2 linked regions of the Homo sapiens genome follow. The protein of the gene in region 2 purifies or fractionates together with the protein of the main gene of each other region. This does not show direct contact. Each region holds a gene or a part of one and is shown on either strand. Other genes may lie near its edges.

What was found. Proteins that work in one complex are often made in the same cells at the same time.
Region 1: the proteins of NAA30 (region 2) and WDTC1 purify together in Homo sapiens (co-immunoprecipitation; 2 studies listed by BioGRID and IntAct, with this or other methods). This does not show direct contact.

Annotation. Positions count from the first base shown.
Region 1 is NC_000001.11:27,286,618-27,293,640, reverse strand, and holds part of WDTC1 (WD and tetratricopeptide repeats protein 1), read right to left. Parts: intron 5,968-7,023; coding exon 5,780-5,967; intron 1,427-5,779; coding exon 1,244-1,426; intron 1-1,243. UniProt on the Homo sapiens protein: May function as a substrate receptor for CUL4-DDB1 E3 ubiquitin-protein ligase complex.
Region 2 is NC_000014.9:57,386,095-57,393,591, reverse strand, and holds the start of NAA30 (N-alpha-acetyltransferase 30), read right to left. Parts: upstream 3,007-7,497; 5' UTR 2,887-3,006; intron 2,636-2,886; 5' UTR 2,635-2,635; coding exon 1,864-2,634; intron 1-1,863. UniProt on the Homo sapiens protein: Catalytic subunit of the N-terminal acetyltransferase C (NatC) complex. Catalyzes acetylation of the N-terminal methionine residues of peptides beginning with Met-Leu-Ala and Met-Leu-Gly.

The DNA.
Region 1 (7,023 bases), on a different chromosome or scaffold from region 2:
TGGAGAGGCAACTCAGGTCTGAGAGTGCTGTGGGGGTTCTGAGTGTTATAAGAACTAGCAGGAAATATTATATACAGTGATTTCTTTAAGAAAGACACTATAAGAGATTTATATAAGAAATTATAAGAATAAATAAATATAAGGAAATCATAAGGAATTTATGTAAGAGATTATGGGTAATTTATACTTTTTTTTTTTTTTTTTTAATTGAGACTGAGTCTCACTCTGCCACCCAGGCTGGAGTGCAGTGGCAGGATCTCTGCTCACTGCAAGCTCCGCCTCCCAGGTTGACGCCATTCTCCTGCCTCAGCCTCCCCAGTAGCTGGGACTACAGGCACCCGCCACCACGCCCGGCTAATTTTTTGTATTTTTAGTAGAGACGGGGTTTCACCGTGTTAGCCAGGATGGTCTCGATCTCCTGACCTCGTGATCCGCCTGCCTCGGCCTCCCAAAGTGCTGGGATTACAGGCGTGAGCCACCACGCCCGGCCTAATTTATACTTTTCATATTTTCCAACATAAGCGAGGATTAAGTTTTTTAAAAAATCACAAAATTGAAGAAAGTCCATTTCATAAAGAAGAAGGGGCCAGGCTGGGTGTGGTGGCTGACGTCTGTAATCCCAACACTTTGGGAGGCCGAGGCGGGCAGATCACCTGAGGTCAGGAGTTCAAGACTAGCCTGGTCAACATGGTGAAACCCCGTCTCTACTAATAATACAAAAATTAGCCAGGTGTGGTGGCAGGTGCCTGTAATCCCAGCTACTCGGCAGGACAACAGCTTGAACCCGGGAGGCAGAGGTTGCAGTGAGCTGAGATTGTGCCACTGCGCTCCAACACGGGTGACAGAGCAAGACTCTGTCTCAAAAAAAAAAAAAAAAAAAAAAGTAAAACAATAAATAAATAAATAAAAGAAGGGGCCAGGCACAGTGGCTCATGCTTGTAGTCCCAGCACTTTGGGAGGTCGAGGTGGAAAGATTGCTTTAGCTCGAGTTTGAGACCAGCCTGGGCAACAAGGAAAGACCCCGCCCCTATAAAAAAATTAAAAAATTAGCCAAGCGAGGTGGCGTGTGACTGTAGTCTCAGCTACTTGAGAGGCTGAGATGGGAGGATCGCTTGAGCCTGGGAGGTTGAGGCTGCAGTGAGCTGTGATAGAAGAAGAGGGCATGGCAATGGCAGTGAGGGAAAGGGGCAGTAGGTTCTCTGGGGACTTACTCACAGGAGACAGGAGGCTGAACTATTCATACCTGTGGTTATGGATCATGCGGATGTCATAGAGCCTCACGAAGGGCCCGCTGGCCCCAACTGCCAGGCAGTTGTTGTCCTGGGGGTTGACAGTGAGGCACTTGGCCTCCACCAGCTGGCCACAGTACTCTGTCAGGTCAATCAGCACCTCCGAGTGTTTGCTGTTCTCTCGAAGGTCATACTGGCTGTGAGAGAGGACAGAGTTAGGGAATTGGGGCTTGGGGTCCTTGAGAGGAAGGCAGGGGAAAAGATAAGTTCTTGTTATGCAAGAGGATTGGGAGGGACTTTGGACCTGTTTCTAAATAAGAATGTCAAAAACAACTCCCATTTCTTGAGTGTCCACAGTGTGCCAGGTACCTGTAGTAGGCTTCTCACACATTCTATTCTACTAGAACTCCTAAGGTGGATACTATTGTACATATTCTACAGATGTTAGTATTATTGCTACTATTATACTACTACTGATTACCAACACTTAGTGAAAATGTGCTTTATGTCCAGTATTGCCCCTTAATTAATTCCTAACGCCATCCCTAGGTATCATTAGAATACTGAAGTTCAAAGATGTTGAATAACCTGACTGAGATGACACTGCTAGTAAGTGCAGAGCTGGGGAAGCTTTCTGAGACTGCATCTTAAACACTGCTCCGTTCCTACCTAATCTAGTTTCTTTCATGAAACAAGGTATGGAGGTGACAGAAAAGAGACTCTGCAGATCATCTAAGAGCTATCTAGATATACCATGGGCCAAGGCAAGCCTAAAAGTCTCATCCACGCAGTAAAGGTAATGCCAAAAAGTCTACCAAACAGCAGCAAACTCCCACCGCTCCAGACGGGGAAACTTTGTGCTGCCAATACACAGGTATCCTCAGAGAGTGGTGGGTAGGGGGGACATCACCTATATGCTCTCCCCTCTTGCCTAGACATCTGTTATCACCTCTTTGCTGTTCACCTTGTCTTTCTAAGCCATCTTCACCAGGCTGCTCTTCCTAAAATATTATTTTACATCACTCTCCTGCTCAAAAAAATTGCAGAGATTCCTCAATACTTTTAGCACAAGTTTACTTTTACCAAACTCCTCAGTCTGGTTTTCAAGACTCAATTTCACATTTCTCTCCAACCTTATTCCTCAGTTTTCTAAATGTGGGTCAATTATAACTACAGAATTCTTTATCCTGCACATGCCATGTTTATTTCTGCCTTTGCAAACTCTGCTCAAGCTGGGGAATACACTCTGCTTTTCCTTGCTCATCCAAATCCTGTCTGTTCTGGAAGGCCCAGCTTATGTTCACCTTCTGCTAGGACACCTTCTCTGACTGTGCCTATGCCTAAACACTTAGGATCCTACCCAATGCGCTAGACGCTCCGCTTCTACCAGCTGGCCCTGGCAAAATCTGGTCAGCCAAGGTCAAAAAGTGCTACACAGAGTTGGACCTGCCACTGACAAAGTGCATTCTGTCTTCTGAGGTTCAGGGATGCAGTGACTTACCCCAGTCAAATACTGAGTGCGATTGCTAGGATTTGACCCCAGGTCTGTCTGACTTCACTGCCTTGCTCTTGACTATGTTATAATTTATATATGACTTAGATATTCCTCATCTGTAAAAGGAAAGAGGGCACAAAGTCCTACAGGAACTCAAGGGAGACAGATTAAAGCAGGCTGGGGAGATAAGAAAGAAGTTCTAAGGTCACAGCTGAAGAAAGGAGTTAAAGAAGGGCAACGACACCATTTTAGAATGAAGGGAAGTAGAGGCAAATGTGTAACAATGCAGGGCACTGGAAAAGGGGACAGTCCATTTTACCATTTCCGGGTGGCTTGCCCCCTCCCAGGTATATAGCCACTGACCAACTGTTCAAGAGAAATGTATCAAGCGGCTCTATGTGCCAGGCGCTGTGCTGGGCTCTAGGGATACAACCAAGAACAAGACAGACATGGAGTTGCTCTAAGAGAGTTTACTTTTACTATTTAGTGAGGATACAGACAAAAAAGTAAACCAATAAGTAAAAATAAAATAAGGCCAGGTGTGGTAGCTCACACCAGCAATCATAGCACTGTGGGAGGCCGAGGTGGGAGGATCACTTGAGCCCAGGAGTTTGAGACCTGCCTGGGCAACACAGAGAAACCCCATCTCTACAAAAAAAATAGAAAAATTAGCCAAGCATGGTGGAGCGTGTCTGTAGTCCCAGGTATTCAGGAGGCTGAGGTGGGAGAATCGCCTGAGCCCAGGAAGTCAAGGCTGCAGTGAGCCATGATCACGCCACTGCACTCCAACCTCGGCAATAGAATGGAGTGAGACCCTGTCTCAGAAAATAAATTAATTAGCTCCCTCTCCCTCTCCCCCTCCCCCTCCCCACGGTCTCCCTCTCCCTCTCCCCACGGTCTCCCTCTCCCTCTCTTTCCACGGTCTCCCTCTCCCTCTCTTTCCACGGTCTCTCTCTGATGCCGAGCCGAAGCTGGACTGTACTGCTGCCATCTCGGCTCACTGCAATCTCCCTGCCTGATTCTCCTGCCTCAGCCTGCCGAGTGCCTGCGATTGCAGGCGCGTGCCGCCACGCCTGACTGGTTTTCGTATTTTTTTGGTGGAGACGGGGTTTCGCTGTGTTGGCCGGGCCGGTCTCCAGCTCCTAACCGCGAGTGATCCGCCAGCCTCGGCCTCCCGAGGTGCCGGGATTGCAGACGGAGTCTCGTTCACTCAGTGCTCAATGGTGCCCAGGCTGGAGTGCAGTGGCGTGATCTCGGCTTGCTACAACCTCCACCTCCCAGCCGCCTGCCTTGGCCTCCCAAAGTGCCGAGATTGCAGCCTCTGCCTGGCCGCCATCCCGTCTGGGAAGTGAGGAGCGTCTCTGCCTGGCCGCCCATCGTCTGGGATGTGAGGAGCCCCTCTGCCTGGCTGCCCAGTCTGGAAAGTGAGGAGCGTCTCTGCCCGGCCGCCATCCCATCTAGGAAGTGAGGAGCGTCTCTGCCCGGCCGCCCATCGTCTGAGATGTGAGGAGCGCCTCTGCCCGGCCGCGACCCCGTCTGGGAGGTGAAGAGCGTCTCTGCCCAGCCGCCCCGTCTGAGAAGTGAGGAGACCCTCTGCCTGGCAACCACCCCGTCTGAGAACTGAGGAGCCCCTCTGCCCGGCAGCCGCCCCGTCTGAGAAGTGAGGAGCCTCTCCGCCCGGCAACCACCCCGTCTGGGAAGTGAGGAGCCCCTCTGCCCGGCCAGCCGCCCCGTCCGGGAGGTGAGGGGCGCCTCTGCCCGGCCGCCCCTACTGGGAAGTGAGGAGCCCCTCTGCCCAGCCAGCCGCCCCGTCCAGGAGGGAGGTGGGGGGGTCAGCCCCCTGCCCGGCCAGCCGCCCCGTCCGGGAGGGAGGTGGGGGGGTCAGCCCCCCGCCCAGCCAGCCGCCCCGTCCGGGAGGGAGGTGGGGGGGGGGTCAGCCCCCCGCCCGGCCAGCCGCCCCGTCCGGGAGGTGAGGGGTGCCTCTGCCCGGCCACCCCTACTGGGAAGTGAGGAGCCCCTCTGCCTGGCCACCACCCCGTCTGGGAGGTGTACCCAACAGCTCATTGAGAACGGGCCAGGATGACAATGGCGGTTTTGTGGAATAGAAAGGGGGGAAAGGTGGGGAAAAGATTGAGAAATCGGATGGTTGCCGTGTCTGTGTAGAAAGAAGTAGACATGGGAGACTTTTCATTTTGTTCTGTACTAAGAAAAATTCTTCTGCCTTGGGATCCTGTTGATCTGTGACCTTACCCCCAACCCTGTGCTCTCTGAAACATGTGCTGTGTCCACTCAGGGTTAAATGGATTAAGGGCGGTGCAAGATGTGCTTTGTTAAACAGATGCTTGAAGGCAGCATGCTCATTAAGAGTCATCACCACTCCCTAATCTCAAGTACCCAGGGACACAAACACTGCAGAGGGCCGCAGGGTCCTCTGCCTAGGAAAACCAGAGACCTTTGTTCACTTGTTAATCTGCTGACCTTCCCTCCACTATTGTCATATGACCCTGCCAAATCCCCCTCTGCGAGAAACACCCAAGAATGATCAATAAAAAAAAAAATAAATAAATAAAAATTAATTAATTAATAAAAATAACTACAGGTGGCAATTAGAGTTACAGAGGATATAATTGTTAAAACAAGCATAACGTCTGTCTACTTTAGACAGGATGGTCAGAGAAGGTGCTTCTGAAGAGGTAACTGAAGCTGATCTCCTTAGGATAAGAAAGAGTCCGACATGGGAAGAGCTGGGGACAGAGAATCTCAAGTAGAGGAAAGAGTAACGTGAATGCCCAGAGGCAGTAGAGACCCTGGACACCTGAGGTGGTGAGAAAAAGCTTGTGGGCCTAGAGGTAGTACAAAGGAGGGCAAAGAGGGAGGAAGGTGAGGGCGGAGTAAGCAAATGTTCCCAGTGGAGTTTGTACACAGACAACTGCCCTGGGCAGACAAAGGAGGTTGGACCTCTGCTGGAGGGAAAGAGCTAGGTCTGTAGAAGGAAACACTATAGGATGATGGGATGGGGGAGCGACAGGCTCCACTAGATGCCCCAGACTCTTACCGGATAAGCCCATCCTCAGCAGCACTCCAGAATGTGTTGGGCCACATGGGCGCTGTGGCGATGCGCTTCACCCGGTTTGTGTGGTCTCCAAACATGTGGATGGTCTCCTTTACTGTCAGGTCGTGCACATGCACCTTAGAGTCGGCTGCCCCCGTGATCAAGATGCGGTCCCCAGCGTGAGGCAGGAACTATATAGGAGAAATGGAGGAAGGGGTGGGTGGTAAGAGTAGAAATGGCCACGGAAGGAGGCTAGCCTGGATGTCTGCACCCTTTTCTCTCTCCATGTCAGATAAGAGAATGAGCCCATGCAGGCTGGGCGCGGTGGCTCATGCCTGTAATCCCAGCTGCTCAGCAGGCTGAGGCAGGAAAATCCCTTGAACCCAGGAGGCAGAGGCTGCAGGAAGCCAGAGGCTGCAGTGAGCCGAGATTGTGCCACTGCACTCCAGCCTGGGCAACAGAGCGAGACTGTCTCAAAAACAACAACAACAACAAAAAACAAAACAAACCCTTGAGGTTCAGCAGTAATATACAGCAAGATTGTGTTCAAGCCCAAGTCTGTCTGACTCCCACATGCCCTACTTGCCTCATTATGACTACTTAGTAACCTAGAGATTAAGTAATAAATTAGTCCTGAAGTGAAAAAGACTTTGAGTGTTTAAGGGAATGGGTGTGTGTGGGTTTTTTTTGTTTTTTTTTTTTGAGACAGCGTCTCGCTCTGTCACCCAGGCTGGAGTGCAGTGGTGCAATCTCGGCTCACTGCAACTTCCACCTCCCGGGTTCAAGCGATTCTCCTGTGTCAGCCTCCTGAGTAGCTGGGATTACAGGTGTGCACCACCACGCCCAGCTAATTTTTGTATTTTTAGTAGAGACAGGGTTTCACCATGTTGGCCAGGCTGGTCTCGAACTCCTGACCTCAGGTGATCCACCTGCCTTGGCCTCCCAAAGTGCTGGGATTGTAGGCATGAGCCAGAATGCCCTGTTGGGAGTGAGTGTTTTAAATTAGTTTGACTGCTTCTGAAAAACAATCTGGTAATAGTAACAAAGATTAAAAACAATTTCTAGTTTTTGACTCAAAACTTCCACTTCCAAGAAATAATCCAGGCCAGGCGTGGTGGCTCATGCCTATAATCCCAGCACTTTGGGAGGCTGAGGCGGGCAGATCACAAGGTCAGGAGATCCAGACCATCCTGGCTAACACGGTGAAACCCCGTCTCTACTAAAAATATAAAAAAATTAGCCGGGCG
Region 2 (7,497 bases):
AAGGATATGATTTAAAATAAACAGACATTTACGCATCTGTATTTTTAAAAAAATAGTTCCTATGGGAAACTTAAATTTAAAAGTATGCCAAGATAAAGGCTTCAGTTTTAAATGGCCTGGTTGTTTTTTTACTGTTTTATTATTGTTTAATACCTCCTGATTCATACTTGCACCAGTAAATCTTATAGGTCAACCACTTGTGCATATCGCAATTCTAGATACTCAGAATATTAAACAAACTTGAGCTACTAAAGGCTAACATACACATTAGCTGGTGAATTGGGAGGGTTCTACATAAAATCAAATCTAAAGTTTACTAATATTGTTGACCAGAGTCTAAAATAGCAAACAAGTTGAGAGAGGCTTAGGTAACTATCAGGACTCAAAGTTGACTAAATATCATATACACAACTATTTCCTGGAATTGACAGAAAAACATCTATTTCAACTTGAAATGTGACTCAATCATCTACTTCTGTGGGTTAACTTACAACTAAATCTACAATTTTTAGCAATTACAGTGGCATTTGATATGACATTTATAATAGTGCTATAAATCATTTTCTCATATTCATTGACACAGACATGTCTTAGAACTATTCTGATACAATGCTTAGAATACTGAAAGAGCAGTTTTCAAGAATATAAAGTAGTACCCACAGTTTTAACAAATGTACTGAATTGAAGTTTAAGCAAGTTAAGACAGAAAATAGAACTACCATTATCTACAATACCCAGGTTACATTTTCAAATTATCACCAAGCTAGAGAATCAAAAAGATAAGTATTGTCAAAATATCTTGCAGGGAATTACCAAGTGAAACTAAGCCAATGCTAAAACATTAAGTAATGGTGGCTTTTCCCTTCACATATTAAAAAATATTCCTTAAAAGGATGTCATCTTTCTGTAGTAAAATTCAACAGAAACAATATGCTTGTGAGCACATGATACAAAGCATACACCTGCAGTCAACGTTTAAGTTAAAGGGTTCATACAGACTGAAATGGGTCAATATTATTGTGAAGAAATTACTGGTACTGCCAATACTATGTTAATTTTTAAAAACCGTCCAAAAGTCTTTCACTTACGTGTAATATTATTGTCAATTATACTCTACACAAGCCAGTGTTACTAGTGTTTGGCCACATCTACAACCAGTTTCTTAAATTAAAAAAAAAAAAATCAGATCGGTAACAATTTCACACAAGTTTTCTACATTCCACAAAAGGGTATTTTGTTCAAGTTTCAGGAGTCTTTCAGCCACCAGAAGTGTTAGTAGCGCTTTCTGGAATGGAGTACCAGAAAGCAGGCTGGCTACAACTGTTAATTGTCCAGTTGAAGTAAAGAGAAACATCTCCATAATTACCGAAAATGCTTGTAAGATTTAATTCTCCAATATGACCACACCAAGTTTGCTGACATCCATGTTCACCACAACATGTTTATGCATACACTCTTCCCTGATTATGGTTGTAATCGAGAGACTAATAAGGCCTGTATCTGAACAGAACCATGTTCAAATTAAATGACTGTAAAGTGTTTGAGGATGCGGGCGGGTAATTAAAGACGGTTAAACACGATTATAATCTAATGTAAACAAGACACAAGACCCCCACCCCAGTGAAACACGCCACCATACAGGCTTGCTGCAGTTACACTAGTATCACGTTAACCCGAATCATGAAGTCTTACCTTCAAAACAATTTCATTAAATAACTAGGAATGTGTACAGCACTTGACATCATATAACGTACTATGATACGCAGCAGGAGATATCCACTGCCACATTCTGGGCCCTCACTCCCTGCCCCGCACAGTCTCGATCACTGCTGGGTTCACCCTCTTTTTATTCTATCCACTTACCAAGAAGCACAGCTGTGGCCAGTTGTGGATAAAATATCTATAGGTATAAATGGAGTAGGGTTCGGACAGATCTTTGGTGATCAGTCTCATGATATCGGGCATTTGTAGCTCGGATTCATATCGGACATATCGTATCGTCCGATCCTCCCCAGGCTCAACCTCCCTGCCCGAAGGGCTTCTTAAGCTGCAGTCGGCGGTCAGGGACGAAGACAGCAGCCGCACCTGCTCGTCTTCCTCCTCCTCCTCCTGCTCGGTGCCCTCGGCCAGTCCATTGCGGGCCGCCGCGGGATCGCTCGCCGCCGCTGCCTCCACCGGGCTGGGGACCGCAGTTCTTGCATTACTAGAGAGGGAGTGAGGGGGCCTCTCGCCCGAGTGTACCCCGGCTCCTTTTGTTGCAGTCGCTCTGGGGCCTCCGTCAGGGGTGGCTGTGGTCGCGGCCACCTCTGCTACGCTCAGGACCTTGCTCTTGAGGGAGGCGGCCGCCCGGAGGTGCCGCAGTTCGGGGCTAATCAATCCGTTGAGCTGCTGCTGCTCCTGCGGCGGCTGAGGGCAGCGGAGGCACGGATGCCCCTTGGCCGCCACCGTCGCCGACTCTCCGCCCGCCGGGCTCCTGCTGCCGCCGCCTTCGTGCTCTTCGTCGTCCTCCTCGTCCTCGCTGCAGCAGGCGAGGGCGGCCCCCGCCGGGAAGGGACAGCGGGGCTCGACCGCCGCCGGGGCCGGAGGTGCTGGTGGTGGGAGGAGGCTGCTAGGCCCAGGCGGTACCTCCGCCATCCTAGAAGCGACACAGACCGAGAGGGGAGGCCATGAAACCCGGCCGAGGAGCGCGGAGAACAGGGGGCGACGGATGGGGGGCGGCCGAGGTGGGGGGAACAAAGGCAGAAACCGTCCCTCACGGAGCTGCCCCCCAATTCCCCGCCACCCCCCCGCTCTTCAGCGCCGCCCAGCTGCTCAGCCGGCCACCGTCCCCGTCCGCCCGGGCCCACCCGCCAGCCCTGTCACTCGCGGCCCCTCCTCACGGCTCACCCCGCACGGGTCCCCGCCGCCGCTGCCGCCACTCCTCTTCCTCCGCCACCGCCGCCGCCTCCTTCGCAGCCGCGGCAGCCTCCACAGCCGCCAAGGTTCTCACTCAGCCGCCGTCGCCGTAAAGCGCCTCAGCTGTTAGGCCGGGTAAAGTTTCCTGGGCCTGGCTTTACGACACTTCCCTGCCTGCCGGCTGCCCGGGCCAAGAGAGAGGGGCGTGGAGGGAGGTGACCTGTGGAGGGGCGGGGACAAAGGTGTCTCCTGCGGGCTGCGGGGAAGGCCGCGTGCTAGTGGGTGGGGCTGTGGGGCCGGGAAGTTGCAGAGGGCTTTGGAGTCACAGGCTCCCAAACCCTCTTCCTCGGTTTGGGGGCGCCTCAACCTGCGGTGCTTGCCACGCGGGGCCGGGGAGGGATGGACCGGGCAGGCGCTCCCTGCTTAAAGTCTACCGCGCACTCCGAGCTGTAGCGAATCTCGCCAATTCGGGGCCTGTGGAACAAGCCGTTTACAAGTCACCTAAAAATGCCCTTTTAAAGCTGCACAGCGTTTAATGTTTGCCCTGACCAGGGGCAAGGAGGATGGGGGAGGAGCGATTAAAAATGGAGCAAATCAGAGAAGCCGACCGAAAAAGAAAGGAAGATTTGAGCTGTGAAAATATGGGGATGGCTGTCGAAACGTGGTGGTTTGCAGTGTGAATTAAGTTCAGCTGGCCCTTGCCACTTTGAGGCAAGGGAGTCAGCCCTCTTCCTCTCCCTCCTTACTCTGCTCCTCGCACCCAGTAAAATTGGAGGCAAAAGTGACTGACAGGTGTTGGGCAATTGCTAGCACACCTGGGGAAGGGTTAGAGAGAGGTGGTGAAAGAGAGTGACCAGGGCTAAGAAGCACACTCCTAAACTTGTGACACAAATAGGTTAGGAAGCACTGGTAAACAGGTGGCCTGATCCTCCCAGGGGATCTGCCTATCGAGTGCAAAGGGGATAGAACTTGAGCTTGTGGCTGGGCGCCTTCTGCTCTAGTCCACAATTGACTCCCGGCAGGTCTGAGCTGAGACAGGTAGTGTAACTCACCCGCTCACTGAACAAATTCGGTTTTGTTAAAAACCTGATTTATAGAGCTGGTCTGGTGTGCCGCAGATGGACGTTTTCAATATATAATTCTATGACGGAACACGTTTGCAACTTTTTGCCGTAATCTAAACTCTATGTATAAAGTATTTATTATGCTCGCAGATTCTGTGCCTCTGAAATCCAGACAGAGCACAACTGGGATGGCTTTTCTCTACTCCATTATGCGTAGAGCTTCAGTTGGAAGACTCTAAGGCTGAGGAGTAGAATTATTTGAAAACTTCACTTTCACCGCTGATGGTTGATGCAGGATAAAGGCTGGAGGCCTCAGTTCTAGTCCATGTAGACCTCTCCCGGTGGTCTTTTAGCATTGATTGGTTTGGGCTTTGTCACAGCCTGGTGGCTGGGTTCCACGGCAAGTATCGTGCGAGAAAGTCAATCAGAAGCATATTACCCATTATAACCTAGCCTTAGAAGTCATGTAGTCTCTAGCCAGGTGCGGTGCCTCACGCCTGTAATCCTGGCATTTTGGGAGGCCCAGGCGGGAGGATCTCTTGAGGCCAGGAGTTCGAGACCAGCCTGGCCAACACAGTGAAACCTCATCTCTGCCGAAAAATACAAAAATTAGCCGGGCGTGGTAGCTCATGCCTGTAGTCCCAGCTACTCAGGAGGCTGAGGAGAATCACTTGAACCCGGGAGGCGGAGGTTGCAGTAAGCCGAGATTGCGCCACTGCACTCCAGCCTGGGCAACACAGGGAGACTCCCTCTCATCAAAAAGAAACAAAAAACAAGTTATGTAGTGTCAGTTCTGCTGCATTGTATCTAGGCAGACACAAAATTATATCCAGTTTTGACAGGAGGGGAAATAGACTCTACTCTTGGTGGAGAGAGGCAAGGTTCTCAAAGAGCATATGGGACCAGAAATATTGCTGTGGCCATTTTCAGAATGTATAACTTGCTACAGATACATTGAAAACCTCCTAAACACCTTGATGTGTGGGGGATATAAATGAGATGTATAAGTACAGCGTGATCCCTTTTCTGTCTTTTAAAAAGCACAAAACAAAACCATGTTTCCAAATGTGCATACATTGTTTAAAGATACATGTTTTTCAAAGTTTCTAAGTGTAACCTGGGTAGTCAGCCAATGAAACAATGATCTGTTCAAATCATGGTGGAAAAACTGGCCCAAGAGGCACCAGATAATTCCATAAGAGATGTTTAAGGGTGAATTTTACTTAGAAAAATACCTCTCAGTAATTTACTTTTAAATGTAAGCCCTTCCTAAAAAGCATGTACCTTCACTGTAGTGAATGAATGGCAGCAGGCCTTCCTGTTCTTTCTGTGTTGCAACTTGGCATTGAGCTCTGTCACACTGAGGAGCTGACCAGATGTTGTCTCAAAGTGGTTTTCAGAAAGTCAAGAGTTGTAAGGACCTTCTTGAGGCCAGGGAGTAAATGTTAGTCACTTTGTATTCACATATCAAACACATAAAAGGGAAATTGTTAAGCTTTTTGACTGAAGTACACCAGTCTCTCATTCAGTAACCTAGAATGCTTATAATGACAAAGTAAATTCTGACCTCCTCAATAACTAGTGGGGTAATTCTAATGTCTCAGCCCCAGTGATTTTTCTTTATATCCCAGTATTAAAATTACAATGTTGGCCTTCTAAATCAGATGACATCTCTAAAAAAAATTGCCTTTATAACTTATGAAATCTTTTCTATTTGATTCATGTTTACTTGATAGGATGATAGCACTATTTTAGGCATAGAAATAGGATTAGTTCACTCTAATGCTTTAGACATATTTACTATTATGAGACTCTGAAAAAACAACTACCTCCATGAGCAATACTTCATAGGAAAGAATGGGCTCAGAGCAAGGTGAGTGTAGCAGTGATACTCTTCTGTGTGGTTAGTTGATATTTTCATTGTTTTGTAATATCCTATGAAGCAACAGCCATTTTTTCTTTTCTTTTTTTTTCTTTTTTTTTTTTTTTTACTATTGTTGTTCTCTTTTGAGGAAGAAGAGAACATGCCTTAATTTTTTAGAAGAAAAAAAAGCTTCTCATTAAATCAATTAAAATAACCAATAGCAATTTTAAAACAACATCCTGAAGCAATTTATTGAAATCAGCTTGGAAGGAGAAAAATTTCTATTTAATTCTTTCTAACAGTGAGGCATTTTTCTCTTATTGGCTAGGTTTAGAGAGAAAACCTAGCTGTGTACCTACCTGAAAGGTAACTGTGGGAATGAATAATGGAAAGATGCTTTAAGTTCCCTTGACACAGCAGGATGACATTGTTATGTGCCATAGGCACACATACTAAATAATTTAAATATTTGTGTAGTTTTATTTTACATGTCATGTGGTTCTTAATCCCACTAATCCTATCTATTATACATAAAGCCCTGAAAATGAATGTCCTTAACTTTGTTTCATCTTGAATGAAAGAAAGAACATACATCAAATTTGAGAGCTGAAGAACTTAACCAAAGGATGAATATTAGTATATTGTTGTATTACCTGTAATCTTAGAACACTCTGAGATGCCCAGGTAAAAGACTAACAATTTGATTCTTCCCTTCGAATTTGGGGAATGACAGTCTGTTCTTTAAACTTCTTTCCCCTTGCCAGTAGTGGATGGCAGTACCAATTGTAGGTAGGCATCAATTTTGTTTGTAGAACTGAGGCCTCAGAGGACTATGAAGAACCAGAGAGGGTTGTGGTCAAATGGTCCCCATTTCCATTATTTTCAACCTCACACTAACTCTTCATGACCTGCCTGAAGACATGGTCAGGGTGATTCTCACAGATACACCTGGGCTGGTGAGACATGTTGGAGAGAATCATATATTCCTACATATTAGAGCCAAAAAATTTTTGGTCTCTAATTTAGCTATGCCTTCAGCTGTCTAGAATTGTTTTAACCTGTCTCCAAGGCCAGCTTCATCCAACAGCAACTGTCCTCAACCACTACTTGCTTCACACTCTCAGCAGATAACCCTGCCTCCATTTCACTAAGAAAAGTGAACTATTTCATAGGTGTGCCTTCTACTGCCATACCTATAAGTTCATCTGTATCTGAACTTACCCTTACCTCCTCCCTCCCAGTCTTAAGAGGGTGGAAGATGGATCAATTCTTCATGACTAATACCTCCCTCTACCTGTGGGCTTGATGCTTTCTCTTTCAGGCTCCTTTAGAACCTGTCCCATCATTGTTTCTCTCTCCTGAATTTTCCATGTTACCTTTGCTAGCTACTGCCTCAAAGTTTATAAACATGCCCCATTTAGAGATTTCTCCCACTACCATCCTTTTCCTGCCTCCTTTTCACCACAAACTCCTAATCTGCAATAGGTATCCACTGTCTCTACTCAGGTGCAGGTTCACTCTTCATTGGTGGGTTGGCTTCAATCTCAGCCCTTCTTCAAACAACACTCTGGCAAAAAATCACCTGTTATGTCCTAACTAGACTCTTCCAGTTCTCACATCACTTTATTCCATCGTGGCATTTCATCCTGCTGTGTCCTTCCAGAAACTCTTCCC